3 separate regions of the Homo sapiens genome follow, and regions 1 and 3 are each linked to region 2. The links come from fine-mapping of genetic effects on plasma protein levels. A gene starts in region 2. Each other region holds a variant in brackets. All regions are shown on one strand. Distances are between the middles of the regions. Region 1 overlaps USP4 (ubiquitin specific peptidase 4). Region 2 holds the start of PRKAR2A (protein kinase cAMP-dependent type II regulatory subunit alpha). Region 3 overlaps FBXW12 (F-box and WD repeat domain containing 12).

Evidence for each region. PIP is the chance, under the fine-mapping model, that this variant and not a neighbour inherited with it causes the effect. The UK Biobank Pharma Proteomics Project read protein levels with antibody pairs (Olink). The fine-mapping took linkage between variants from a reference panel, not from the people measured, so its PIPs are less certain.
Region 1: its variant is fine-mapped to the plasma level of the PRKAR2A protein (UK Biobank, PIP 0.97).
Region 3: its variant is fine-mapped to the plasma level of the PRKAR2A protein (UK Biobank, PIP above 0.99).

What each region holds. Positions count from the first base shown.
Region 1 is chr3:49,327,572-49,336,812 of GRCh38, reverse strand. USP4 (ubiquitin specific peptidase 4) reads left to right here. Exons shown (of 22, transcript NM_003363.4): 2 at 1,217-1,344; 3 at 8,997-9,127. Among named protein-coding and RNA genes, the nearest start is that of USP4, 7.9 kb to the left of the region's middle. The variant A/G (reference allele first, on the strand shown) is at 4,000.
Region 2 is chr3:48,844,323-48,854,411 of GRCh38, reverse strand. PRKAR2A (protein kinase cAMP-dependent type II regulatory subunit alpha) reads left to right here and starts at 6,538. Exons shown (of 11, transcript NM_004157.4): 1 at 6,538-7,077. The coding sequence starts at 6,816. It overlaps PRKAR2A-AS1 (PRKAR2A antisense RNA 1), which reads right to left and starts at 6,475. Exons shown (of 3, transcript NR_109997.1): 1 at 6,387-6,475; 2 at 6,004-6,307; 3 at 2,430-5,425. RefSeq lists a silencer at 6,396-6,725.
Region 3 is chr3:48,374,189-48,384,616 of GRCh38, reverse strand. It overlaps FBXW12 (F-box and WD repeat domain containing 12), which reads right to left. Exons shown (of 11, transcript NM_207102.2): 5 at 9,145-9,263; 6 at 6,091-6,300; 7 at 5,059-5,217; 8 at 3,705-3,915; 9 at 2,739-2,917; 10 at 2,532-2,662. It also overlaps the pseudogene RN7SL321P. Among named protein-coding and RNA genes, the nearest start is that of FBXW12, 7.2 kb to the right of the region's middle. The variant C/T (reference allele first, on the strand shown) is at 4,649.

The DNA.
Region 1 (9,241 bases), 480 kb before region 2:
CGGTGGCTCACGCCTGTAATCACAGCACTTTGGGAGGCCGAGGTGGGCAGATTACCTGAGGTAGGGAGTTTGAGACTGTCCTGACCAACATGGAGAAACCCTGTCTCTACTAAAAATACAAAATTAGCCAGGTGTGGTGGCACACACCTGTAATCCCAGCTACGGGAGACTGAGGCAGGAGAATCACTTGAACCCGGGAGGCGGAGGTTGCGGAGAGCCGAGATCACACCATTGCACTCCAGCCTGGGTAACAAGAGCGAAACTCTGTCTCAAAAAAAAAAGAAGTTAATGACTTGTTTATTAGCAAACATGATTTTACCCATGAAAAGACTCCATTTAGACTGAGTGTGGTAGCTCATGCATGTAATCACAGCACTTTGGGAGGCCAAGGCAGGAGGATCACCTGAGATCAGGAGTTCGAGACCAGCCTGGCCAACATGGTGAAACTCCATCTCTACTAAAAATACAAAAAAATTAGCTGGGCCTGGTGATGCATGCCTGTAATCCCAGCTACTTGGGAGGCTGAGGCAGGAGAATTGCTTGAACCCAGGAGGTGGAGGTTGTAGTGAGCCAAGATCATACCACTGCACTCCAGCTTGGGCAACAAGAGCGAAAACTCCGTCTCAAAAAAAAAAAAAAAAAAAAAAGAGGCCAGGTGCAGTGGCTCATGCCTGTAATCCCAGCACTTTGGGAGGCCGAAGTAGGCGGATCACCTGAGGTCAGGAGTTTGAGACCAGCCTGCCCAACATGGTGAAACCCCGTCTCTACTAAAAATACAAAAATTAGCTGGGAGTGGTGACAGGTGCCTGTAATCCCAGTTAGTCAGGAGGCTGAGGCAGGAGAATCGCTTGAACCTGGGAGGCAGAGGTTGCAGTGAGCCAAGATTGTGTCACTATACTCCAGCCTGGGCGACAGAACAAGACTCCGTCTAAAAGAAAAAAAAAGAAAGACTGCATTTAAATAAGCATTTTGAAACCACTTGTTTTCTTTCTTTTATTCACTCTTTGAACAATCATTTCACTTAATGGATGCATACCCTGGGCCAGACTCTCTGTGCCATGTGGGGCCTGGGCCCTGCTCTTGCTCTTGTGACAGTGTTTTTTAGTGGGTATTGCATATGCCCCAAGTGGAAGGACCATAAAAAAGATTAAGGAAGCAGCTGCAGAAATTTATAATCTCAGCTTTTCTGCTACAGTAAATTTCTGTCTCTCTCTAGGTATCTTATTGACAGCCGGTGGTTCAAGCAGTGGAAGAAGTATGTGGGCTTTGACAGCTGGGACATGTACAATGTGGGTGAACATAACCTATTTCCTGGCCCAATAGACAACTCTGGGCTATTTTCAGGTATAGTAAATGTTGCTTTTCTAGCTAAACATTCACCTGGGCAGTGGCCTGATGTTATGTGCATCTGTAACATGGACGTTGTGAACTTTCCTAGTGTGAGGAGATAGAAACAAGTATCCTCATTTTGCATCTATAGCAGAAGTCTTTGCAAACCCTTAATGAGAAGTTAAGCTACTTTTTTCCCTTAAATTAACTGCATCTGATAAGAGTATGCTTCTAACATTTTAACTTTCTCTCTTTGCAAATTAGTTCTGCTAGCTATTTCACATTTTAAGTTAGTATATGGAATGGAAAGAAATAGGATGTCATTTTGAAATTGTATCTAAAATTTAAGAACCAGAATTTTTTGTTACCTTTGCAGTGGAACAAATTGTAAACCTGTGAACTTTCATCAAGAATTCCTGTGATGGCTGTTTTTATCATATAACTAGTGTGAGGAGAGGTTGAAGGTCAGTAGACAGAGTTATGACTGTAGTCAGCTCCCAATGGGAACTGTGGGAAAAGCGACATGTAACACACTAGAGCTTGCTTGCACTTGTACATGCACTGAGATGACAGAGTCAGCTTTTCCCAGGCTTTCTTTTGCCTGACTTCAGACCTCTTTAAAGTCATGATAGAGGTGATCTGTCATGGGTGTCAAAAATCAGGGCAGTGCCAGGAGTGGTGTCTCACGCCTGTAATCTCAGCACTTTGGGAGGCCAAGGCAGGTGGATCACCTGAGGTCAGGAGTTCGAGACCAGCCTGGCCAACATGGTGAAACCCCGTCTCTACCATGTTGGCTAGGCTGGCCTTGAGCTCCTGGGCTCAAGCTATCTTCCTGCCTCAGCCTCCTTAGTCACTGAGACTACAGTGTTCTACCACTCTCAGCTGTTTTTTAAGTTTTTTGGTAGAGACGGGGTCTTGCTATGTTGCCCAGGCTGGTTGAACTCCTGGCCTCAAGCCATCCTCCCACCTTGGCTTCCCAGAGTGTTGGTGTGAGCCACTGTGCCTGGCCTAACTTGGATATTTTTAAAACTGAGCAATGCTTCAGCTCAGACCTTGTTTTAGGAGAGGTCTACATGGTATAAACAATATCATTTACTTTGTTTCCTGAAATAGGTCAAATGGTGGCACTATGCCACGAAGTTGCCCTAAGGAATCATTTCATTATGTTCACATTTTGTTCTTTTTCTCATTTTTATGAAATGGAGAATTCTTAAGGTTTTAAATTCAGGCATACTTTGGCTTATTGTGCTTTGCTTTATTATATGTTGCAGATACTGCATTTTTAGCAAATTTTGTAGGTATTTGGCAACGCTGCCTTGACAATCTGTCAGTTCCATTTTTACAACAGCATGTGCTCACTTCATGTCTCTGTTACCACATTTTGGTAATTCTCAAAATACTTCAAAGTTTTTCATTATTATTTGTTATGGTGATCAGTGATCAGGGAGCTTTCTTTTTTTTTTTGAGACGGAGTTTTGCTCTTGTTGCCCAGGCAGGAGTGCAGTGGCATGATCGTGGCTCATGGCAACCTCCACCTCTTGGGTTCAAGTGATTCTCCTGCCTCAGCCTCCCGAGTAGCTAGGATTACAGGCATGTGCCACCACGCCCGGCTAATTTTGTATTTTTAGTAGAGATGGGGTTTCTCCATGTTGGTCAGGCTGGTCTTGAACTCCCGACCTCAGCCTCCCAAAGTGCTGGGATTACAGGCATGAGCCACCATGCCCAGCCAACAGGGATCTTTCATGTTGCTATTGTAATTGTTTTGGGGCATCATGAAGGGAGCCCATGTAAGACAGTGAACTTAATTGGTAATTATTGTGTGTATTCTCGCTGCTTCACCAACCAGCCATTCCATCTCTCTCTCTCTCCTCAGGCTTTGCTATTGCCTGAGACACAATGACACTGAAATTCGGCCACTTAGTAACCCTAACAACGTCTTCTAAATGTTCAAGTGAAAAGGAGAATTGCATGTCTCTCACTTCAAATCAAAGCTAGAAATGATTTGAGTTTGGTTAAGGAAGCCGAAATAGGTTGTAAGCTAGGCCTCTTGTGCCATATAGCTAGCCAAGTTGTGAATGTAAATGTAAACCTCCTGGACTTAAGTGATCCTTCCACCTCAGCCTCCTGAGTAGCTAGGACTACAGGTGCTTGCCAGCATTCCTGGCTCATTTTTGTATGTGTTTATTTTTTCTTTTTGTAGAGATGGAGTTTTGTCATGTTGCCTGGGAGATGGAGGAACCCAGGAAATGGTGGTTTCAGTGAGCTGAGATTGCGCCACTGCACTCCACTCCAGCTTGGGCGACAGAAGTGAGACTCCATCTCAAAAAAAAAAAAAAAAAGTGCTACTCTAGTGAACACATGAATTATAAGAGGCTGAAACAGCCTTATTATTGCTGATATGGAGAAAGTTTATTCATTTATTTTTTTTTTTGAGACAAGGTGCCATCTTGTCTCAAAAAAAAAAAAGGTAGCTACTGCTACCTCGTGCAGTAGCACAATCACACCTCACTACAACCTTGACCTTCCCAGGCTCAGGTGATCCTCCCATCTCAGCCTCCTGAGTAACTGGAACTACAGGCCCCACCACACTCGACTAATTATTGTATTTTTTGCAGAGATTTTTTGTGGGTTTTGTCATGTTGTTCAGGTTGATCTTGAATTCCTGGGCTC[A/G]AGCAATCCTCCCGCCTTGACGTCCCAGAGTGCTGGGATTACAGGTGTGAGTCACTGTGCCCAGGCTAAACAACAGGTTTTATTTTATTTTATTTTTATTTATTATTATTATTTTTTTGAGACAGAGTCTCACCATGGGGTTTCACCATGTTGGCCAGGCTGGTCTCAAACTCCTGACCTTAAGTGATCCGCCTGCCTCGGCCTCTCAAAGTGCTGGGATTACAAGCATGAGCTACTGTGCCTGGCCTAAACAACAGATTTTAAATGTAGACAAAACACCCTTCTATTGGGAAGATGCCATCTACCTCTTTGCTGCTAGAGGGGAAAAGTCAGTGCCTGGGTTCAGAGCCTTTTTTTTTTTTGAGACAGGGTCTTGCCCTGTCACCCAGGCTGTAGTGTGTGATCACAGCTCACTGCAGCCTTAACCTCCTGGGCTCAAGTGATCCTCCCACCTCAGCCTCCTGAGTAGCTAGGACTACAGTTGCTTGCCACCATGCCTGGCTGATTTTTATATGTTTGTTTGTTTGTTTGTTTTGTAAGACAGAGTCTCGCTCTGTCGTCTAGGCTGAAGTGCAATGGCACAATCTTGGCTCACTGCAACCTCCACCTCCCAGTTTCAAGTGATTCTCCTGCCTCAGCCTCCCAAGTAGCTGGGATTACAGGTACCTGCCACCACACCCAGCTAATTTTTTTTTGTATTTTTAGTAAAGACGGGATTTCAGCACGTTGGCCAGCCTGGTCTCGAACTCCTGACCTCAGGTGGTCCACCCGCCTTGACCTCCCAAAGTGCTGGAATTACAGGTGTGAGCCACTGTGCCCAGCTTTGTATTTTTTTTTTTTTTTTGTAGAGATGGGATTTTGCCGTGTTGCCCGGGCTGGTCTCCAACTCCTGGGCTCAAGTGATCTGTCTGCCTTGACTTCTCAAAGTGCTGGGATTATAGGCATGAGCCACTCTGTCCGGCCAGATTCAGAGCCTTGAAGGACAGGCTGACTCTCTTCTTAAGGGATACTGCAGATGGTGACTTTAGTTTGAAGCTAGTGCTCATTTATCATTCCAAAAATCCCAAGGCCCTCAAGAATTATGCTAAATCTGCTCTGCCTGTGCCCTACACATGCAACAACAAAGCCTGCATGATAGCATATTTATTTACAGCATGGTATACCGAATATTTTTGTTTTTATTTTATTTTTCTGGGACAGAATCTCGCTGTGTCGCCCAGGCTGGAATGCAGTGGTGCAATCTCGGCTTACTGCAACCTCTGCTTCCCGGGTTCAAGTTATTCTCATGGCTCAGCCTCCCAAGTAGCTGAGATTACAGACATGCACCACCAGTTCTGGCTAATTTTTGTACTTTTAGTAGAGATGGGGTTTTGCTATTTTGGCCAGGCTGGTCTCAAACTCCTGGCCTCAAGTGATCCACCCGCCTTGACCTCCCTAAGTGCTGGGATTACAGGCATGAGCCACCACAACAAGTTTACCGATTTTTTTTTTTTTGAGTCGGAGTTTTGCTCTTTTGCCCAGGCTGGAGTGCAATGGTGCGATCTTGGCTCACCACAACCTCTGCCTCCCAGGTTCAAGCGATTCTCCTGCCTCAGCCTCCTGAGTAGCTGGGATTATAGGCGTGCGCCACCACGCCCAGCTAATTTTGTTTTTTTAGTAGAGACGGGGTTTCTCCTTGTTGGTCAGGCTGGTCTCGAACTCTCGACCTCAGGTAACTGCCCACCACGGCCTCCCCAAGTGCTGGGAGTACAGGTGTGAGCCACCACGCCCGGCCTCCCAATATTTTTTTTTTTTTTGAGACGGAGTCTTGCTCTGTCACCCAGACTGGAGTGCAGTGGCGCGATCTCGGCTCACTGCAAGCTCCGCCTCCCGGGTTCACACGATTCTCCTGCCTCAGCCTCCTGAGTAGCTGGGATCACAGGCGCCTGGTGCCTGCCACCACACCCGGCTACTTTTTTTGTATTTTTAGTAGAGACGGGGTTTCACCATGTTGGCCAGGATGGTCTCAATCTCCTGATCTCGTGATCCACCCATCTCGGCCTCTCAAAGTGCTGGGATTACAGGTGGGAGCCACCGCGCCCGGCCTCCGGCCTCCAGCCTCCAGCCTCCCAATATTTTTAGCTCAGGGTTGAGACCTACTGCTCAGAAAAAGCACTGAGCTAATCTTATCAAAATGTTACTGCTGCCAGGTGCAGTGGCTTACGCCTGTTATCCCAGCACTTTGGGAGGCCAAGGTGGGCGGATCACGAGGTCAGGAGATTGAGACCATCCTGGCTAACATGGTGAAACCCTGTCTCTATTAAAAATACAAAAACAAAATTAACCGGGTGTGGTGGCGGGTGCCTGTAGTCCCAGCTCCTCGGGAGGCTGAGGCGGGAGAATAGCATGAACCCGAGAGGTGGAGCTTGCAGTGAGCCGAGATGGCGCCACTGCACTCCAGCCTGGGGGACACAGCGAGACTGTCTCAAAAAAAAAAAAGTTACTGCTCCATTGCAATGTACCTAGTTACCCAAGAGCTCTGATGGAGATGCATGAGGAGATTAATGTTGTTTCATGCCTACTAAAAACATCCGTTCTGCAGCCTGTGAGTCAAGAAGTAATTTCAACTTTTTTTGTTTGTTTGTTTGTTTGTTTGTTTGTTTTGAGACAGAGTCTCACTCTGTTGCCCAGGCTGGAGTGCAGTGGCTCAGTCTTGGCTCCCTGCAACCTCTCCCTCCCAGGTTCAAGCAATTCTCCTGCCTCCTCCTACCAGGTTCAAGTAATTCTCCTGCCTCAGCCTCCTGAGTAGCTGGGATACAGGTGCCCGTCCCTCCACCTGGCTAATTTTTGTATTTTTAGTAGAGACCAGGTTTCACCATGTTGGCCAGGCTGGTCTCAAACTTCTGACCTCAAGTGATCCTCCCGCCTCAGCCTGCCGAAGTGCTGGGATTACAGGCCTGAGCCAGCGTGCCTGATTTGATTTCAACTTTCAAGTCTTATTATTTAAGAAATACATTTTATAAGACTTTATCTGCCATAGATAGTGATTCTCCTGAAGGATCTGGGCAAATTAAATTGAAAACCTTTTGGAAAGGATTTACCATTCTAGATGCCATTAAGAATATTCATGATTCCACCTGGTGCAGTGGCTTATACCTATAATCCCAGGACTTTGGCAGGCTGAAGTAGGTGGATCCTTTGAACCCAGGAATTGGAGACTAGGGTGGGCAACTTGGCAAAACCCCATCCCTATAAAAAATACGAAAATTAGCTAGGCCTGGTGGCATGCACCTGTAGTTCTAGCTACTTGGGAGACTAAGGCAGGAGGATTGCTTGAGTCTGGGAGGTCGAAGCTGCAGTGAGCTGTAATCATGCCACTGCACTTCAGCCTGGGTGATAGAGTAAGGCCTGCCACTCCCACCTGCCCACACACACACACAAAAATATTCATGATTCATGGGAGGTCAAAATCAACATTAATAGGAGTCTGGAAGAAGTTCATTCCAACACTTACGGATGACTTCAACGGGCTCAAGACATCAGTGGGAGAAGTAACAGCAAAAGTGGAAATAGCAAGAGAACTAGAATTAGAAGTGAAGCCTGAAGATGTGACTGAATTGCTTTATTTTTTATTTTTACTTTTATTTTTATTTTTTTTGAGATGGAGTTTCGCTGTGTCACCCAGGCTGGAGTGCAGTGGCGCAATCTTGGCTCACTGCAACCTCCGCCTCCTGGGTTCAAACAATTCTCCTGCCTCAGCCTCCCAAGTAGCTGGGCTACAGGTGTGCACCACCATGCCCAGCTAATTTTTGTGTTTGTAGTAGAGACGGGGTTTCACTACCCTGGCCAGGCTGGTCTTGAACTCCTGACCTCATGATCTGCCCACCTCGGCCTCCGAAAGTGCTGGGATTACAGGTGTGAGCCACTGCGCCTGGCCTATTTTTAATTTTAATTTTTATTTATTTTTATTTCTTTTGAGACAGAGTCTTGCTCTGTCACCCAGGCTGGAGTACAGTGGGGTATCTCGGCTCACTGCAGTCTCCACCTCCTGGGTTCAAGCAATTCTTATGCCTCAGCCTCCCGAGTAGCTGGGACTACAGGCATGCATCACCATGCCCAGCTAATTTTTGTATTTTTACTAGAAATGGGGTTTCACCATGTTGGCCAGGCTGATCTTGAATTCCTGACCTCAAGTGATCTGCCTGCCTCAGCCTCCCAAAGTGCTGGAATTACAGGCATGAGCCAACATGCCCGGCCTGAATTGCTTTAATCTTATGATAAAACTTGAATGGCTGAGGAGTTGCTTCTTATGGGTGAGCAAAGAAAATGGTTTCTTGAGATGGAATCTATGTCTGGTGAAGATGTTATGAGCATTGTTGAAATGACAACAAAGGAACCCTGCCCTGAAAAAGGTGTGTAAACTAGTCGGAGGGATGGTGGGAAACCATAACCACCTCATGTATGATTTATTTATTTTTGAGATGGAGTCTTGCTCTTTCACCAGGCTGGAGTGCAGTGGCGTGATCTTGGCTTACTGCAACCTCTGCCTCCCGGGTTCAAGCAATTCTCCTGCCTCAGCCTCCCGAGTAGCTGGGACTACAGGTGCCCGCTACCACACCCGGCTAATTTTTATATTTTTAGTAGAGACGGGGTTTCACCATGTTGGCCAGGCTGCTCTCAAACTCCTGACCTCATGATCCAACCGCCTCAGCCTCCGAAAGTGCTGATTACAGGTGTGAGCCACCACACCCAGCCTGGAGTTTTTCTTTTTTATCCTCTTCTCTCCCTCCAATTATAGAAGAAATACAAATTCCTCATAAAATCTTCATGGATAAAGAGAAAACATGGATAAAGACAAAAGTCTGCTCTGTATAATGACCAGTGACAGAATTTTGGAATTTCATTCCTGTTTCTTTCTGTAAATAATTTTCTTATTTCTGAAAAGTACATGGAAATCATGTAAAACCATCATTTCTGGGGTAAAGAGCAGTGACTTATGTGCTCTTTTCCTTTTTTAGATCCTGAGAGTCAGACCTTGAAAGAACACTTAATTGATGAATTGGACTATGTATTGGTCCCTACCGAGGCGTGGAATAAACTACTAAACTGGTACGGCTGTGTAGAAGGCCAGCAACCCATCGTCAGAAAAGTGAGTTATGTGAATTGTCCCACCTGCTGGTCACTGTCTGCAGGTGCTTTCTGTTGGACACTGACTAGTGTTTGCTAGGAAAATGAACATACCTCAGTGGTTGAATAGTGGTGC
Region 2 (10,089 bases):
CAGCTTTTGCCTAGAAGCCCCTGTAAATGTATTTGCATTTCAGCCAAATGCCAGCCATTCCCATGGCTTAGGATCACTTTTACAGTCTGTGCCTCTGGATAATTTGCCCTTTGAAAAATTTTCCATTTTAAAATGGAGTATTTTGGTTCTTTGATGTTAGTGATGGTAGATTATTTTAGTCCTTTGGGTGTTCAATAGATGTTAAGTCAAATAGGGAAGCCCCTGGAGGCATATTTGTGATGGGAGCAGAGCAGATGTTGAGTAACTCCCTCCTGGCTGGTGCTTCCTTTTTATGATGCACTTTGAAATGCCACCTGTTCCTGATATATCTCTTCTCTTCCTGACAGGGGTAAGGAGTAGGGGAAAATTGGGGCCTCCCTAGCAATTTCTCTTTCACAGACAGTCACAACTGGGAGCCAGACAGTGATTTTTTTAAACAACCAATTGGTGATAAAAGCCTCACCCAGGCATCAAGAAGCATATAACTGGGCCAAAGGTGAGGGAAGGAGCACAGGTTGTTGCAACAGTGATTGTTAAAAGCACAGTAGCACCATTTCAGCTATAAAGTCATACTATCTCTACCCCACAGTTGTTTCCCTACAGCCTTTTTTTTTTTTTTTGAGACAGAGTCTTGCTCTGTCACCCAGGCTGGAGGCAGTGGAGCGATCTCAGCTCACTGCAACCTCCGCCTCTTGGGTTCAAGTGATTCTCCTGCCTCAGCCTCCCGAGTAGCTGGGACTACAGGTGCACACCACCACGCGTGGCTAATTTTTGTATTTTCAGTACAGACGGGGCCAGGCTGGTCACGAACTCCTGACCTCAGGCGATCCGCCTGCCTTAGCCTCCCAAAGTGCTGGGATTATAGGCATGAGCCACCGTGCCCAGCCTCCTTACAGCCTTTTGAGGCTGGAACCCCTTACATCTTTTGTAACCTCCTTATAAGTTTATTCTCTTATTTCTTTATCCCCTTGTAACTCAATGTTTAATGGGTAGGGATTTTTTTTTTTTTTTTTTTTTGAGATGGAGTCTCCCTCTTTCACCCAGGCCGGAGTGCAGTGGCACGATGCTGGATCTTGGCTCACTGCAACCTCTGCCTTCCAGGTTCAAGTGATTCTCCTGCCTCAGCCTCCCGAGTAGCTGCGATTACAGGTGCATACCACCACGCCCAGCTAATTTTTGTATTTTTAGTAGAGATGGGGTTTCGCCATTTTGGCCAGGCTGGTCCTGAACTCCTGACCTCAAGTCACCCACCCACCTCGGCCTCCCAAAGTGTTGGGATTACAGGTGTGAGCCACTACACCTGGCCTTAATTTTTGTATTTTTTGGTAGAGATGGGGTTTTACCATGTTGGCCAAGCTGGTCTCAAACTCCTGACCTCAGGTGATCTGCCTGCCTTGGCCTCCCAAAGTGCTGCGATTACAGGCATGAGCCACTGCACCAAGCCTCTGAGTAGGGATTTTGACTTCCACTTTCAGATGTGGATGCCAAGGCTCAGACAGGGTAAACTGATCTGCAAAGGTCATTGGCAAATTGATAATAAAGTGGGGATTGTCTGGGTCTCCTGAAGAAAGACTTGTGATGCTATCAGAGGCTTGATCCAGGCTCCAGGAGACCTGTCTGTACCACCTGGTCCAAGCTTAGGTACTTGGCCTGTGAGTCAGATCAGGAGTGGCACACAGAGTCCTGACAGCACTGGGAAGGCCCCAGGGCCAGGTGTCCCTGAGGGGTCCCTTTTCTGCTTTCTCTGCTATGGTAAGCATGCAGACCTGTGATTTTCTAGCCAGCTTCCCTGTGCTTTCTAGGTTCTGTCCTTGCCCTGAGGTGTCTCAGATGCAGACCCTGGGTCCACTGCAGAGACTGACATTTTCTCAGGACATAGTGTCTCAGGCGTGGGGATGGCTCACAGGTACACAAACGTGGCCTGGGAGCTAACTGCTCCCTGGAGCATGGGCACTTGTTAAAACAGATTAGATTTCCTGGGCAAAAGGCAATGGCCTCGCTGGAGGAGCCACAGTAGAGGCTGAAAGACAGCTTGGGTAAGGGCCGAGAAAACATAGCCCACTTCCTCAATCTCTCTTGCCAACTAAAGGCTCATGAACACTTCTAAGGCAACATAGAAGCTGTTGCTTGTAGGAACTAAGTGAGCTGGGAGTACTAAATCCAGGAGGGCCTGGCATGTAGAGGTGGTCAGGTGACCAGCGGATCCCAGGAAATGGGTGGGGGACTGGAATGGCTTAGAAAAGTGGTCCCTTGATCAAGTAAGAGGGAGGTTTTCCTGCTGGACCTGAGTCCTGCAAGTATGCAGAGGGCATAAGGTATTTAAGCTGGAGGATCTGAGCCAAGAGCAGGCCTTCAGAGGAGTTCGGGGAAGTTTAGGCCCCTCTCTTCATCTTGGAGAGACAGACAGAAACGTTTGAATAACAAACCTATCAAGAGCACACAAAATTCATTGTTTCATTGGAAACAGCAATGGTACCCTACCCATTTTCGTTTTCACCAAGACCCGTTGCTTTTGGGCTAAACAACATGTGTCCCACCTGTGCTACTCTGCATCCATAGTTGCAAACATCTCTGCAAATTGGCCCCATTGTGTCCATATCTGTGCCTCTGGTTGGTGATATGGCAGTTTGTGCAAGACGTTGACTGCCTGCTGAGTTGTGAGTAGGATTAGATTTGAGTGTAGCACCCTCAGGGTTCTGGGGCCTCCTCCTGTGTACTTCTCTTCCTTCTAAGAGTCTCTGCTGTTGGCCTTTTCCACCATCAGTTGCTCTTGGCAGCTGTATCTCAGTTACCGGCTGCCTCTGGGTTTAGTTGCCATGGTAACCTCCAGTGGTGCAGCTGGACAGGCTTGAATGCAGGCAGGATAAATGCAGGATAAGGGTAGAAGATGCGGGGTTCAGGCTCCTGGTGTTCTGTCCTGTTACAGGGCCCTCTTCTTTAGCCAGTTCAACTAGATATTCATGAAGACCCTGGGGGCTCTACTTGTTACTGAAGGGTTGACCAGAAGTGGGAGAGATGCACCCCTGCTCTGGGGACCAAGTGCTGGGGGAGAGTGCCAGGTTAAACCTGGAGGCTGGCTGCCCATCCTTGCTCTAAGACTAGTCTATGGAGACCCATGAGGAGCAGCTGTAGGACTCCTGCTTTCTGTGGCTATATGGCAGACACACCTGTGTATGGTAGCTGCACCTGACAGCAATAACTTAAGCATACTCTGAGAATGACCCTGTATGGCAGATGCACCTGAATGTGTTAGGAGTTCCAAGTGAGGACAAGCCAGAGATTCATTACTTACCCATGAGGAATATCTGAGCCCCCATTCTGTCCTGTGGATGTACAGGGGATTTAGCCCCTTTGTTTTGGGTTAAATCAAAGTTGTTAGGGGGAGGGTGTTAAGTGAAAATGCTATATATACTGCATACTTTCTGCAGGTGGGGCAGTTCTCCTATCTAGCCCACCTCCACTGGACTGCTCTGTATGCAAATTCCCCTCAATCAAACCTAAGTCTTGTTTGCTGGCTCTGGATCTCTTTTGGCCTCTCAAACCTGGTGCCATCCCTACTGAAGTTAATGGGGGTCTGGTGGCCAGGTGCGATGGCTCACACCTATAATTCCAGCACTTTGGAAGGCTGAGGCGGGTGGATCGCCTGAGGTCAGGAGTTCGTGACCAGTCTGGCCCTGTCTGTACTAAAAATACAAAAATTAGCCAGGCGTGGTGGTGTGCGCCTGTAGTCCCAGCTACTCGGGAGGCTGAGGCAGGAGAATGGCTTGAACCCAGGAGGTGGAGGTTGCAGTGAGCAGAGATTGCGCCACTGCACTCCAGCCTGAGCGACAGAGCAAGACTCCATCTCAAAAAAGAAAACAAAACAAAATATGGGTCTTTCTTGGCCGGGCGTGGTGACTCATGCTGGTAATCCCAGCATTTTGGGAAGCTGAGGCAGGCGGATCACCTGAGGTCAGGAGTTCAAGACCAGCCTGGCCAATATGGTGAAACCCCATCTGCACTAAAAATACAAAAAATAAGCCGGGCGTGGTGGTGCGCACCTATAATCCCAGCTACTTGGGAGGCTGAGACACGAGAATCGCTTGAACCTGGGAGGTGGAGGTTGCAGTGAGCCGAGATCGCGTCACTGCACTCCAGCCTGGGCAACAGAGTAAGACTGTGTCTCAAAAAAACAAACAGGCCAGGCGTGGTGGCTCACGCCTGTAATCCCAGCACTTTGGGAGGCCAAGGCAGGCGGATCATGAGGTCAGGAAATCCAGACCATCCTGGCTAACATGGTGAAACCCCGTCTCTACTAAAAAATACAAAAAATTAGCTGGGCATGGTGGCGCACGCCTGTAGTCCCAGCTACTCTGGAGGCTGAGGCAGGAGAATGGCATGAACCCGGGAGGTGGAGCTTGCAATGGGCCGAGATCATGCCACTGCACTCCAGCCTGGGCAACAGAGCAAGACTCCATCTCAAAAACAAACCCAAACAAACAAAATGGCCAGGTGCAGTGCCTCACGCCTGTAATCCCAGAACTTTGGGAGGCTAAGGCGGGCAGATCCCTAGGTCAGGAGTTCGAGACCATCCTGGCCAACATGGCAAAACCCCGTCTCTACTGAAAATACAAAAATTAACTGGGCATGGTGGCAGGTGCCTATAATCCCAGCTACACAGGAGGCTGATGCAGGAGAATTGCTTGAACCTGGGAGGTGGAGGTTGCAGTGAGCTGAGATCGTGCCATTGCACTCCACCTTGGGCGACAAAAGGAAGACTCCATCTAAAAGAAAAAAAAAAAGCCAGGTGCGGTGGCTCACGCCTGTAATCCCAGCACTTTGGGAGGCTGAGGCGGGTGGATCACGAGGTCAAGAGATTGAGACCATCCTGGCCAACATGGAGAAACCCCATCTCTACTAAAAATAGAAAAAATTTGCTGGGTGTGGTGGTGCACGCCTGTAGTACCAGCTACTTGGGAGGCTGAGACAGGAGAATCGCTTGAACCTGGGAGGCAGAGCTTGCAGTGAGCAGAGGTCATGCCATTGCACTCCAGCCTGGGCGACAGAGTGAGACTCCTCTCAAAAAAAAATAGGGGCCTGGCAGAACGGTCGCCCTCATTCCTTCCAGATGCCTTTTGAATGCTCTGCTGGATGGGTGGTTGGCTGAGCCGTGGGGCATCTGAGAACAAGTCAGTAGACCTTCTCCAAGAGTATGCAATAAGGACTGAGCAGGAAAAAAGTTGGAGACTGCCTGTCCCCTCACAAAGTTGATGGTCTAACATTCTTCTCAGGGTCAAGAAACTTGTCCAGGGAGACACTGCTGTTTATAATCACAGGCCTGCTTAGCCTAGAACCTGGGCTGGCCTCTTCATCAGTGGGGATGAGGGCTCCTTGCTCCCAGCTGCTCAGCTCCCAGCAGCATTGAGCTCCTGGGTGTGTGCCAAGCCTGTATGGGAGGTGATAGGGAGGATTTTAATTAATACTGAGTAATTACCAGGCGGTGTTTAAGCATCCCAAATGCCCTCAGGTTCCCAAACCTACAGCTACTCTCTTCCTGGCTAGGCCTGTAAGGAGAGGGGGACTCTGCTCTATGCCCAGTGGGCCTTTGGTTAGCACGTAGGCTGTAGACTGGACATCCCAGGAAGGTCTCCACCTTTTTCAATACCCTTCCAGTTTGGTAGGAGGAGGAGGGCAATTTGGGAAATAGTCTGGCCTCTACAGTTCACCTATACCATCTTCCCAGGGGCAAAGGATAACAATGCCTGTGGTCTGCTCAACTTCATCAAGCAGTGTTGACCTAGGGCCCAGTGTAGAATGTGGGGAGAGGAATGGGCAGACCTAGATCTGGGGACCCTGGTGAAAGTGCTCCAGGAGGAACAGGCACAGAGGTCTTTGCTGCTTTTGGCCTTATTTCCCTTTCTCACTGTACACATTTGGCTGAGTGAACTCTTTCAAATTTATTTTTCTGTCTGTGGCTCTCAAATTATGATCTCATTCAAACGCCTACTTCCTACAAGGCCTTACCCGTTTGACATCTCAGAGACCTGACAGACTCCTGAGTTATTCCACCATTCCACCTGGCAGCCAAGGTGGTCTTGACTCCACCAGGCCTTTGCTCTTGTTGTATGTTCAGATGGCTTTCCTCCAGATCTTCCCCTGGGCGGGTCCTGCTCAGGCCTCGGGGCTAGCTTGAATGTCACGCCGGAAAGTGAGCCCTCTCTTGCCCTTCATCACAGCAGAATCACACTGATGTGCTCGTATGCTTCTGCTTCTCGCTGTGTCTCTGGTGCTTAGTAAGTGCTGGCCAAAAAGAGGCTCTTGGCATCAGCTGAAAGAATAATTTAAAGGTCTTCAGGACCAGGCGAGAGGCACTAATCGGTCCCCTTCATGGGTAGACCGTTCATTACCTAATTCCCTGGATTCCCTCCGTGAGCTGGCATCAGGAACACTCCACTGTCTCGACCCCCCGACAGCCCGAGGGGGCGGGTCATCTAGTGGCGCAAGCGCACTGAGGGCCGGTGCTAAGCGGGGACGCGCACGCCCGCGGTGGCGTGCGTCACAACCAGGACGCCTGCCCCGCCCGTCCAGCTCGCCTGCCCGTCGGTCCCCGCGGCGGCGGCGGCTGCCCAGTGACAGCGGCGGCGGTGCCAGGTCGGCCGTGGTAGCGTAGGGTTGCGCGGCCCGGAAACGCAGAGCCGGCCAAAGAGCGGCGCGACGTGAGCCGGGGCCGTGCGCGAAGAGACCTCGCGGGCGCGGAGCGAAAGGCCGGCGTGAGTGAGCGCGGAGACAGTGGCCGCCGGCGGCCCAACCCGTCTATCCCTTCGGCCGCCGCCGGCATGAGCCACATCCAGATCCCGCCGGGGCTCACGGAGCTGCTGCAGGGCTACACGGTGGAGGTGCTGCGACAGCAGCCGCCTGACCTCGTCGAATTCGCAGTGGAGTACTTCACCCGCCTGCGCGAGGCCCGCGCCCCAGCCTCAGTCCTGCCCGCCGCCACCCCACGCCAGAGCCTGGGCCACCCCCCGCCAGAACCCGGCCCGGACCGTGTCGCCGACGCCAAAGGGGACAGCGAGTCGGAGGAGGACGAGGACTTGGAAGGTAGGCTGTGGGCGGGGCCCTGGGGAGTGGTGCAGGAGGTCTCCAGAGGTCTAGAGGGGTGGCAGGGAGCCAGGTGTCGCGCCGCAGCCAAGCCGACCGCAGGCTGGGATTGGGAGCTCTGTAGCCGCGTTTCTAGCGTTTCCCTGAGACACCGGCGTGAGCCCGCGTGCGCCACTTCCAAATTGAGCTCCGCGATCCTGCGAGCCCTAGAGCGCACCGAGTGATTTGTCAGATCCAGCCTTGAAGGAAACGTGCGCGCTGTCGGCCCTGCTAGAGGATCCCTCGCCTTTGCTTAAGACCCTTCACCAGTTTTGGCTTCGAAGACAACAGCGTTCTCATCCAGTGACTTGTGTTTAATTGATAGGACAGTAAGTTTGTTTGGAAATAATAATTTTTTTTGAAAAGTTACTGTGAAAACTTTTAAGCATAGACAAAAGAGGAAAGGTGAGATGAATCCCTATATGCCATCACCTACATTTAACAGTTGCGTTTGTCACAAAGTTTCATCCATACCTTTTTTCTTTCTTTGCCGAAGTGTATTAAAGCAAATCTCTCAGGTCATTTCACCTCTGCTTACTTGAGTTTGTATTTCTTCAAACATGGTCCCTGGGAATATTCCTATTTTTAAAAACTTGGCCAAAACGATTGAATCAAATTTGGTGAGAGTAAATAATTATCTTGCCGGCCGGGGCAGTGGGCCCCTATAGTCTATACCAGCTACTCTGGAGGCTGAGGAGGAAATATCGCTTGAATCCAAGAGTTCGAGACCAGCCTGGGCAAAATAGACACCCTACCTCATTTTTGAAAACGAAAAACCTGGCCGGGCGTGGTGGGTCACGCCTGTAGTCCCAGCACTTTGGGAGGCCGAGGCGGGTGGATCACCTGAGGTCAGGAGTTCGAGACCAGCCTGGCCAACATGGCGAAACCCCGTCTCTACTAAAAATACAAAAATTAGCCGGGCGTGGTGGCGGGCGTCTGTAGTCCCAGCTACTTGGGAGGCTGAGGCAGGGAGAATCGCTTGAACCTGGGAGGCGGAGGTTGCAGTGAGCCAAGATCATGCCACTGCACTCCAGCCTGGGCGACAGAGCGAACTCCGTCTCAAAAAAAAAAAAAAAGAAAAAGGAAAAACCCAGTAACTATATTCTTGTTTAGTGGGTGGGTTGTAGCTTTAAAGGAAAGGATCCCAGCAGAGACTGAGATCAGGAGAGCAGCTTCATTGGCTCTACTTGCTGTGTCAGGATTTATCATTTAGTAATAGTAAACCTTCTCCAAGAGTTTGCAATAAACTCCAAGAGTACGCAATAAGGACCGAGCAGGAAACAAGTTGGAGACTGTCCCTCCCCTCACAGATTTGGTGATCCAAGATCATCACACCTTTTTTTTTTTTTAAAGTCAGGATCTCGCTCTGTCACCCAGGCTGGGGTGTAGTGGCACAATCAGGGCTCACTGCAACCCCAACCTCACAAGCTCAAGGTATCCTCCCACCTGGGCCTCCCAAGTAGCTGGGACTAAGGGCATGTGCCACCATGCCTTACTAATTTTAAGTGTTTTATAGAGACGGGGTCTCCCTGTGTTGCCCAGGCTGGTCTTGAACTCCTGGCCTCAAGTAATGCTCCTGCCTTGGCCTCCCAAAGTGCTAGGATTACAGGCATGAGCTACTGCTCCTGTCCAAAATAACACTTTCTACATCTGATCTACGCAAGAGTGTTAAGAAGCTATTACAGTTTCCTTGGTTGCTTCAACATATGCTTTGTCAATTTAACAGTAGAATTGGCCTACTTTTGAACAACTAAAATTTAACAAAACAATGAAACCATTTGAGAGGCCAAGTTAGGATCTTAGTGTTATTAGATCACACACACACAAAACTAGTTCTGAGTTGTATCTGGTCTGGCCCAGTATTCAAGTCACGGCAGGGAAGGAGTTAATTAACGGTCATTGCTGTGGGAGGTCACAAGCTTCAGTGCACTGGGCAATCTCCCTAAGTGTATTCATGCTAAAGGAGTAACAAGGGCTCTTCTGGGTTTCCCTTGATTTATTGCACATTACATCATGGGTTTTTGGGAAATCAGAAATTATTTTCTAAACTCTGCCACAGGTTTGCTTTGTGGTCTTGGACAAATTCTCAAACCTGTTTGATCTCAGATTTTCTTATCTTTAAGTTGAGGACAGTGACAACAATCTTCCAGGGACAAATTTGTTTTTAAAAGCTTTATTTCAGGTTTGTTTCACTGTCATCTCTGTAAATCACAAAGCAGTAACCTGCTTTGAGACAATTTTTATTTACACAACACTTTAGGATTTTAGAAATTAGCCTCAGATGAGTAAAAGTTTACAAGTTTTTTTTCTTTTTTATTATACTTTAAGTTTTAGGGTACATGTGCACAATGTGCAGGTTAGTTACATATGTATACATGTGCCATGCTGGTGTGCTGCACCCATTAACTCGTCATTTAGCATTAGGTATATCTCCTAATGCTATCCCTCCCCCCACCCCACAACAGTCCCCAGAGTGTGATGTTCCCCTTCCTGTGTCCATGTGTTCTCATTGTTCAATTCCCATCTGTGAGTGAGAACATGCGGTGTTTGGTTTTTTGTCCTTGCGATAGTTTACTGAGAATGATGGTTTCCAATTTCATCCATGTCCCTACAAAGGACATGAACTCATCATTTTTTATGGCTGCATAGTATTCCATGGTGTATATGTGCCACATTTTCTTAATCCAGTCTATCATTGTTGGACATTTGGGTTGGTTCCAAGTCTTTGCTATTGTGAATAGTGCTGCAATAAACATACGTGTGCATGTGCCTTTATAGCAGCATGATTTATAGTCCTTTGGGTATATACCCAGTAATGGGATGGCTGGGTCAAATGGTATTTCTAGTTCTAGATCCCTGAGGAATCGCCACACTGACTTCCACAATGGTTGAACTAGTTTACAGTCCCACCAACAGTGTAAAAGTGTTCCTATTTCTCCACATCCTCTCCAGCACCTGTTGTTTCCAGACTTT
Region 3 (10,428 bases), 470 kb after region 2:
GGTGAAAGACCAAACACTTTTCATCCAATGGAAGGATGTCGGCTCTCCACTCCAGTGCCACACAGGAGGTTATAGCCAATGCAAAAAGGGAAGAACAACAAGGCATACATTTGAAAAGAAAGAAAACTGTTTGACAGACGACATGATTGTCTACATAGAGAAAGCACAAAGTATCTACCAATCTATGAATAAAAGCTATTAGAATGAATGAGTTTAGCAAGGTTGCGGGATACAAGGTCAATATACAAAAGTCAGTCGTATTTCTATATACTAGTAATGAAAAATGGAAATTGAAATAAGACAGTACTCTTTATAATAGCACCAAAACCACGAAATATTTAGGTATAAATTTTACAAATATGTGCAAAATATTTATCCTAAAAACTACAAAAACACTGATAAAATAAAGATGGCCTAAAACAGTAAGAGACATTCAGGTTCATGTACTGAAAGAGCCAAAATAGTAAAGATGCCAATTCCCCTAATTAATCTCTACATCTAAACAAATTCCAATATAAATCTCAGAATTTTTGTAAAAATTTACAAACCAATTCTAAAATTCACTTGGAAAACAAGGGAACCAGAATAGTCTGAATAATTTTGTAAAAGAACAAGTTAGAGGACTCACATTATCTGATTTCAAAGTCTCTATAAAGTTACATTTTCAATGTAGTGTGTTATTTGATAAGAGATACATATATAGATGATTGGAACAAAAGAGAAAGTCTCAAAACTAACCCATGTAAATATGGTTGATTTTGGACAAAGGTACACAGGCAATTCAACGGAGTAAGGAGTTTTTTCAACAAATGGTGCTGAATCACTGAATATTCATATACAAAAAAATACATCTTGATCTTTATCTTTCCCTTACAAAATTTAACTCAAAATACATCAGAGACCTAAATGTAAAACCCTAAACTGTAAAACTTTTAGAGGAAATCTTAGAACATCTCTGTGATCTTGGGTTAGGCAAAGATTTCATAGATACAATCCCCCAAGCCCAGTCATTTTAGAAGAAAAATTGTACTTCAAAGTTAACCCTTGCTCTTTGAAAGACACTGTGAAGAGAATAGAAAGACAAACCAGAGTGGGAGAAAATATTTGCAAACCCTTATCTGATAAAAGACGTGTATTCCAAATATATAAAGGACTATCAAAACTCGATATTAAGAAACTCAATATTAACAACCCAATTAAAAAATGGTCAAAAGATTTGAAAAAATGTGTTAAAGAAGATAATGTGGATGGCAAATAAATTGCTCAATGTTATTGGGAAAAGGCACAATAAATATCACAATGAGGTATCACTATACATCCATTCAAATGTAAGAAAGAAAAAAAATCCAGGGGAAGTATTTGAAATTATTGAAAGGAAATAAGTATTTATGATTGGTGTAGGCTAAAATTTATTAGATATGATATACAGAGCAAAAACCATGAAAGTCTGCTAAGCATGCTTATAGATATTTAAAGTATTTTTGCCTCAAAACACTGGAAATCATTATCTGAACATAGACATTTTCCTATTCTTGTAAAAAAGTTAATAACAGCTGCCTGATACTTCCTTGTGTGGATATACGATGGTAATTTAAACAATCTCTTATGTTTGGACACTTAGGGAGCTTCCAGCTCTTGACTATCACAAATGCTGTAATGAACAGCCAATGTACTTGAATGATTGGAGGTATAGCTTCACAGTAAATTCTTTTTAGTGGTGTTGGCAGTGCAAAGGATATATGTATTTTCTTAGATGTTGCCAAAAAAGCACTATAAGCAGTATAATGACTAGCAATAATCTGGAAGAAAATGTGTGCAAAGCCTTAAGAGACAAGACTTCTACGTGTACTACGTAAAATCTCAAGAAAAACAATTTAAAGGCAAGCAAACCAGGGGCAAAAATCAGCAAAATGGAGGGAAAGGCAGCTCACTGAAGCAGCAAGCAAGTGGCTAATGAACTCACAAAAGGTACAACTCAGCAAGAAAACACAGGGTATTGGGACATAATCTATCCACTGCTCATGGGAATATAAATTGAGAGCCACTTTGGGAAGACTTAACATCTATTGCAAGTCCCATGACTTCAAGAACTAGCGATTCTCTTTTCAGGCATGAGTTTATTGATATCTATCCTCAGAGAACCTTAAAAAAAAAAACCCCTGTTTTCCCTTCATTCATCTTGATGTAGAAATTAGAAGTTTTCGGCAGGGTGCGGTGGCTCACGCCTGTAATCCAGCACTTTGGGAGGCCAAGGCGGGCGGATCACGAGACCAGGAGATCGAGACCATCCTGGCCAACATGGGGAAACCCAGTCTCTACTAAAAATACAAAAATTAGCCAGGTGTGGTGGCACATGCCTGTAATCCCAGCTACTTGGGAGGCTGAAGCAGGAGAATTGCTAGAACCCGGGAGTCGGAGGTTGCAGTGAGTTGAGATCACGCCACTGCACTACAGCCTGGTGACATAGGGAGACTCCGTCTCAAAAAAAAAAAGTTGTTTAGGGGATGTTTACATCACAAAACAGAGCTTACCTGTCTGTTGTGTGATCATGCCACGTGTTTTCCAGGTGACAGCAGCTCCTGAGGTATGGATGGCGGCCTCCTTCTTCCCACATGTACACGTGCACAGAGTTCTCGGATGTGGTGAGCACATAGCAAGGATCCTTCCAAGGATAGCCAGAGTGAGTGGCCAAGGAGTCAAAGTCAGATCAAAAAGCAGTGGAGGAGAATCATACATACCACCCAGAAGTTGTTGATGGCTGCCTGATGGTCCTCAAATCGTTGCAGCAGGAAGCCAGTGATGCTGAAGAGTAACAAGTATGGTCCACTGGTAAAGACAATCATATATCCATCACTGGCTCCCATCCAGATAGGGCACTTCAGATGAGCTGCCACCTGGAAACTTGCGATCTCATATGCTGTTTTCATGTAAAACGCACATATATATACACACACACATAAGGAAGTAAAGATCAGGTCATTGAATAATAATATCCTCACACTGAATAAAAAAGCATAGTCCCCACTTCCACAGACTTCATTCCGGGGAAGAAAATGAAGGGTAGTCCAGTGGCCTGACAAATACATATCACTGACTGTGGTAACAGGTGCTAGGACACAGGAACAGAGGTTTGTGGACAATAAACAATCCCCTGGGCATTGGAACCCAGGCCCTAAAATATGATGGAAATCTATATGTGTTCGCCCAAGAGAGCAGGGTGGGGGTAGAGATCAGCATGGGTATTAGAGTCGAACTGGGATGGGTTCACCCCCAGCTAAAGAAATCCCCTGCTCCTGGCCGGGTGCGATGGCTCACTCCTGTAATCCCAGCACTTTGGGAGGCCGAGGCAGGCGGATCATGAGGTCAGGAGATTGAGACCATCCTGGCTAACAGGGTGAAACCCTGTCTCTACTAAAAATACAAAAAATTAGCCGGGTATGGTGGCGGGCACCTGTAGTCCCAGCTACTCGGGAGGCTGAGGCGGGAGAATGTCGTGAACCCAGGAGGTGGAGCTTGCAGTGAGCCGAGATTGTGCCGCTGCACTCCAGCCTGGGCAACAGAGCAAGACTCCGTCTCAAAAAAAAAAAAAAAAAACTAGAAATCCCCTGCTCACTTTATACAGGCTGACCCATTTATTAGAGCTAAACACGAATGACTGTGTGATGAGGAAGAGAAACAAGCGTTTCTAATGTGGCACAGCCTACCTTGGATGACTGTTTGGCCTCCAGTCTTCTTGGTTGTTAGATCAAAGGTGATAAATTCTGTCTTTTTTCCAGTGCTACTTTGGGACATCAGTGTTATCCTGTTTTTCACCTTTGGGGTCCAGCAGGCGCTGGCACATAATTTATGTGGGAGAAAGGTAGACAGAGGAACACTGCCTTCTGATGGTCTCAGTAAGGACTCTGTGAGGAATACCTAAAGAGAGCATCGCATGCATGGTCAGGGGCAGGGAACTTATAGCCTCTCAGTACAGGAGTGACTCCAGAAGAGCCTTCTTAGAAATTCTCATCTTGTGGCCAAAGCTTTGTTCAATATCTCAGGAGTGATGAGTGGTCACTGCTTATCACTCCAGCATAAAAGGAACTCACTGTCTTCCTATTCTTCCTGTCCCATTCACAGAACAATGTCCCTGAAGCATGCTAAGGTGTTATGAAACCATCTTGCCATGTTGAACCCTTGGTCAAGTTGAGGTTGGCTAAGCAGATTTTCCCTTCTTGGGGAACAAGTCAAGGGCTGTGTGGCTTTTACTACCTGCCTTCTGAACTCCTCCCTCTTTGGTGCCCAGTCCACCAGTGCCCCACTACAAATGGCCTGCTCAAAGGCCAAAGCCTTCCTCAGAGTGATATTCAGAGGCTGTTGCATATTCAGTTACTTTTGGACTTCTCTACACTTTGCAGCCAACATAGATAAAAGTAAAGAAGGCAAAAGAGAACAAGGACAAAGATATTTTTGTAAAAAAAAAAAAAAATTTTTTTTTTTTTTTAAGAGGTAGGGTCTCGCCATGTTGCCCAGGCTGGAGTGCAGTGACTATTCACAGGTGCATTCCCACTACTGATCAGTATGGGAGTTTTGACCTTTTCTGTTTCTGACCTGGGCCAGTTGGCCCCTCCTTAGGCAACCTGGTGGTCCCCTGCTCCCAGGAGGTGAA[C/T]GTATTGATGCCAGACTTGGTGTGGACACCCTATCAGCATAGCACACTATGGCCTGGAACTCCTGGGCTCACGTGATCCTCCCGCCTCAGCCTTCTGAGTAAGTGGGACTATAGGTGCATGCCACCATGCCCAGCAATCCCTATTTCTTGATACCTGTCTCACCCTCTTCCATCTCTTTGGCAAATTCGGGCTTCATGAACGAGTTTTTGTTAAACATTTGCCACAGCAACTGGATGTTGTTACTTCAAAGAGCATTGTTTCCTGACCATCACAATGGATTCCCCTTGTGATGTGGTCTTAGAGAGGAAGGAGCAGTGTGCCTGGTCCTCACTGAGCTCTGCAGTTTCTCTGCATGCTTCCTAACTTGACATTCCTATCCTGAAATTGAAATACACAGAACAGCACCTACCTGTGGCAAGGTACGACTGTATGTCCCACATGCAAATACCCATTTCTTGTCAGGAGAGCAGTGTAGAAGTACAATACCATATTGAAATGCAGTAACTTTAGAAACATCTCTTAACCCAGGCAGTGTAAATGTGTAGATGTCACCTGCAGCATCGCCAACCTGAAACCAAAGCATCCCCACCATATCAATAGGAAGATATGTGAAATCCTGAAGTACAGAGGAGGCAGCACTATGAGCTGCAAGATATGCCACTGTTTCTTCAATCACATAATGGAGATCAAAACCTCTGACCAGTCTAGCTTGAGACACTGTTGGGATAATCCCATGGAATAAAACTTTCCAAGCCCCAAAGCATTCTTCTCAAGGACAGTTATTCATTAGCACATCAACACTATGCTTTTTCTCAATGTCACCCCAAAGCCATCTCTTCTCCCTCAACTGTCCCCAACCAAGTTCATGGACTGGACAATAACACCACTTGAAAGAAAAGGCACATATAAAGTAATTCAGGAAGTTTTTGGCTTTTTGTCTTTAGAAGAATTGCTGGGGAAATGTACTTGAGGCAAGTCAAGGGGCAAGATAGTGTGGAGGTTTGTATAACATTCATTGATATACTGTGATTGACTCGCAGGGTATGTGGAAGGGATGACAAGAGAAATAGGCCAGGCGCTGTGGCTTATGCCTGTAATCCCAGCACTTTGGGGGGCTGAGGTGGGCAGATCACGAGGTCAGGAGTTCAAGACCAGCCTGGTCAGTTTCTACTAAAAATACAAAAAATTAGCCAGGCATGGTGGTGTGTGCCTGTAGTCTCAGCGACTCAGGAGGCTGAGGCAGGAGAATTGCTTGAACCCAGCAGGCAGAGGTTGCAGTGAGCCAAGATTGCACCACTGCACTCCAGCCTGAGCAACAGAGTGAGACTCTGTCTCCAAAAAAAAAAAAAAAAAAGGGATAGGACAGTAATGTGACACGGATGCCTGACAAGACAACAGGCATTTGATTTTTTGGTCCCCTCTAAATTCAGGGCTCACTTACCATCAGGAATGGGCCATCCTTTGTAAGATAGGCTTCCATGCAATAACAGGGCTGTGGCATGGGGAGAACAGCCAGAGCGTCCCTGTCCTGACAGTTCCACACTTTGATAGTTTTTTTCCGATCCATAGTGATGGCGAGATGCATCTGAGGGAGGGTTACCAGATTTGAGAAATGGAACTCCTGGACTGGGCTTGACCAGATCATGGTACCCTAGAAAACGAGAGTAACACGACCTGTGTTCAAGGAACCCTTACACCTACTGTGCTTTCATTCTGCCCATGTTTATTTGGAAGCCTCTTCCAAATCAGATCTTCTTGCTTCTGGGCAGAGGATATGAAAGTTCTCCACATCTCAATATTTTGGAGGAGTGAACATGAAAACAGGAACTACACATTATGCTCCGAGACAAGAACTTGGTACATAACAGGCGCAAAGAATGATCAGACTTCATAGGTTCAAATCACCTCTGCCTCCTACTCACAGTGCAGCCTTCAGCAAGTCACTTTCTATCATGCCTTCTAATGAGGCTGTCATTACCTTTCACATCTCATGAAACATACTTAGAATTCTGCCTAGGACACAGTAGGAACCCAAAATGTATTAACTATCATTAAAATTGTTATTCAACCTTGTACATTACATACAAGATAGAATAGTTGTCTTTCTAGATGATTCTTTAGCCTTTAAAAAAATTGTAAAGTATATCATATAAGAAAAGAGCACGAAGTTTAATAAATTATCACAAGTGATTACCAATGTACCACTTCTAAGCCCTCCTGAAGTCCCCTTTGCATGTGCTCTATTTAACAACTCCCCCATGGCTCTCCGCACCCAAATGTAATCATTATTTTGATTTTTCACACTATAACAAGTTGCCTATGCAGTAATATCTAAGGCCATGTAACCAAGCATCCCAAAATTTAGTGGCTTAAAACAGGCTTTTGCTAACTCTGTTTCTTTTGATCAGAAATTCAGGGGTAGCTTGACTGGGTAGTTCTGGCTGTAGGTCTCTCATGAGGGTGAAGTCAAGTTTCACTTCCAAGATGGCCTCTCATATAGCTGTGTAAGTTGGTGTTGGCTACTGGCAGGGGTCCTCAGTCCCTCACCACACAGATCTTTCTGGAGGGCTGCTTGAGAGCTCTCATAACACTGTGGCTGGATCTCCAAGAGCTGATGACCCATGAGTGAAGAATTGTCTTCTGTGACATAGCTTCAGAAATTATACACCATAATTTCCACAATATCCTATTGGTTGCACAGGTCAGCCCTATTGACTGTGGCAGTGGACTACACAAGATTGATCGTGATTATCATGGGGCAAAAATATTTGGGCCATCTCAGAGATTGGCAGCTGTAGTCTGCCCCACAGCCTCCAGTGATTCAGTTTCCCCCTACATGAAAATATATCCACCATCTCCCAATGCTCTCAAATGTCTCATACCATTGTAGTATCATTGCAGAATCTAGGCTCTCATTGTTTCTAGGTCCAGGTATAGATGAAGCTCTTTAGATTCAATTTATCTTGACGTGAAAATCTTCAAACTAAATATACAAGTTATCTGTCCCTCACTATCCCCAAAGTACAAGTGTGGGGTAAGCGCAGGATAACATAGTCACTGTTATTCAGAAAAGGTGAAAATGGAAAAATAGGAATCACTGCTACAAGAAATTTTGAAATCCAATAGAAAACATGCTGGCAATTTGTCAATTAGGACTCAAGGCCCAAGAAAGATCTTTAATGACTCTTGGTTCTACTCTCTAGGCTCTTGATTCTGTCTGGGTCATCCTTCGCTTTCTCTATGCGGTGGCCCAATTTTTTAGCTAAATTGTTTTTGGTAGTCTGCTTCCTGCCTGTAAAAGTTTTGAAATCCAAAAGGCCTCTTTTCCTTTTGTGTGTTTTGGCCCCTTTAAATCCAAGCTGACAGTGTTTCTCTCAGTGTAATTCTCTTCAACAAAAACTTTATGGGTCTCCTAAGAACCTCACTGCAGTTTATACCATTAGACAAAAGCCACACTCAGTTTTGAGATAAATCCTTTGCACGCCTTGGAGATCATCTGAGCTAGAGACCACTTTCTGAAAAAGCCAATATAACAAATGCCAATCATTGACAAAGAGGCAATAGAACAGGTAATAAAGATGCAGAAAGCCCAAAAATTATTTCATAAATGCATTCCATGTTATTGGTAGAAAATAAGACCTTATACAAATTTATATATAGAAACACATATTAAAAAGTAAATTCTCAGCCAAGTGCAGTGGCTCATGCTTGTAATCCCAGCACTTTGGGAGGCTGAGGCTGGCAGATCACTTGAGGCCAGAAGTTCAAGAACAGCCTGGCCAACATGGCGAAACCCCGTCTCTACTAAAAATACAAAAATTAGCTGGGCATCGTGGCGCGCGCCTGTAATCTCAGCTACTCAGGAGGCTGAGGCACGAGAATCGCTTGAACTCGGGAGGCGGAGGTTGCAGTGAGCTGAGATCGCGCCACTACACTCCAGCCTGGGCAACACAGTGAGACTGTCTCAAAAAAAAAAAAAAAAAAAAAAAAAAAGGCCGGGCGCAGTGGCTCACGCCTGTAATCTCAGCACTTTGGAAGCCCAAGGTAGGCGGATCACAAGGTCAGGAGATCGAGACCATCCTGGCTAACATGGTGAAACCCTGTCTGTACTAAAAATACAAAAAAATTAGCCAGGCGTGGTGGCGGGCGCCTGTAGTCCCAGCTACTTGGGAAGCTGAAGCAGGAGAATGGCGTGAACCCTGGAGGCGGAGCTTGCAGTGAGCCGAGATCCTGCCACTGCACTCCAGCCTGGGGAACAGAGCGAGACTCAGTCTCAAAAAACAAACAAACAAAAATAACAACAACAACAAAAGTGAATTCTATGTGTGTCTATGGTCCAAATGAAAAGGTCACAAATTACATGATAGAAAACCTGATTTGACACTTTGTTTTTGTTACCACTTCCGAATATTTTCCTCTCAGCACTTCCGTTTCATATATAGAACAGGATGGATGCAAATATGCAGTACTTTTGCCACATATTGGCCAGACTCACCTCTTGCACATCCCAGGCACAAAGCTCTTGCTTTGGAGATACACTACAAATGATTGATTTCTCCTGTTCATCCACTGTAAGTCTATTTCCTGAGAGATAAGCCAACTCCGTCTCAAATGCTAGAAGGAAACATAGAAGACTTGGCCACCAGATAGTTAAGGGATGATCCAAACCAAAAGAAGATAATTTAAAATATTTCTGTACCCTCTTAGGAAGGTTTGGGTAACAATATGGAGAAGATAGAAATTGGGCTCCAGAGTCATCCAAACACAGGTTCCCACGGCAGACTGGCCATTTGGGAGATGTTGGCCAACTTGCTTTTCCTTTTTATCCTCAGTTTCCATAGATATAAAAGGCATATTAAAATCTCTCCATCAGAGAACTTTTCTGAGTTTTAAAAGAGTTATCAAGTCCAGGCACAGTGGTTCACGCCTGTAATCCCAGCACTTTGGGAAGCTGAGGTAGGTGGATCACTTGAGGCCAGGAGTTCTAGACCGGCCTGGCCAACATGCTAAACCTGTCTCTACTAAAAATACAAAAATTAGCATGTTGGCAGGTGCCTGTAATCCCAACTACTTGGGAGGCTGAGGCATGAGAATTGCTTGAACCCAGGAGGCGGAGGTTGCAGTAAGCCAAGATCATGCTGCTGCACTCCAGCCTCGGAGACAAAATGAGACTCTGTTTTTAAAAAAAAAAAAAAAAAAAAAAGTGTTATCAGGATTAGGCCAGGTACAGTGGCTCACGCCTGTGAGGCCGAGGTGGGAGGATCGCTTGAGTTCAGGAGTTCAAGACCAGCCTGGGTAACAAAGTGAGACCTAATCTCTACAAAAAAATTTAAAAAATATGGTCGGGTATGGTGGCTTATGCCCGGAATCCCAGCAATTTGGGAGGCCAAGGCAGGTGGATCACTTGAGGTCAGGAGTTCAAGACCAGCCTGGCTAATATGGTGAAACCCCATCTGTACTAAAAACACAAAAATTAGTTGGGCATGGTGGTAAATGCCTGTAATCCCAGCTACTCAGGGGGCTAAGGCAGGAGAATCACTCGAACCCAGGAGACAGAGGCTGCAGTGAGCCGAGATCGTGCCATTGCACTCCAGCCTAGATGACAGAGCAAGACTCAACCTCAAAAAAAAAAAAAAAATCAACTGGTTGTGGTGGTGTACCCCTGTAGTCCCAGTTACACAGGAGGCTGAGGCAGGAAGATCTCTTGAGCCCAGGAGGTTGAGGCTGCAGCTGTAGAGCCTATGTATGCATTTATTTAGAGACAGGGTCTGGCCCTGTC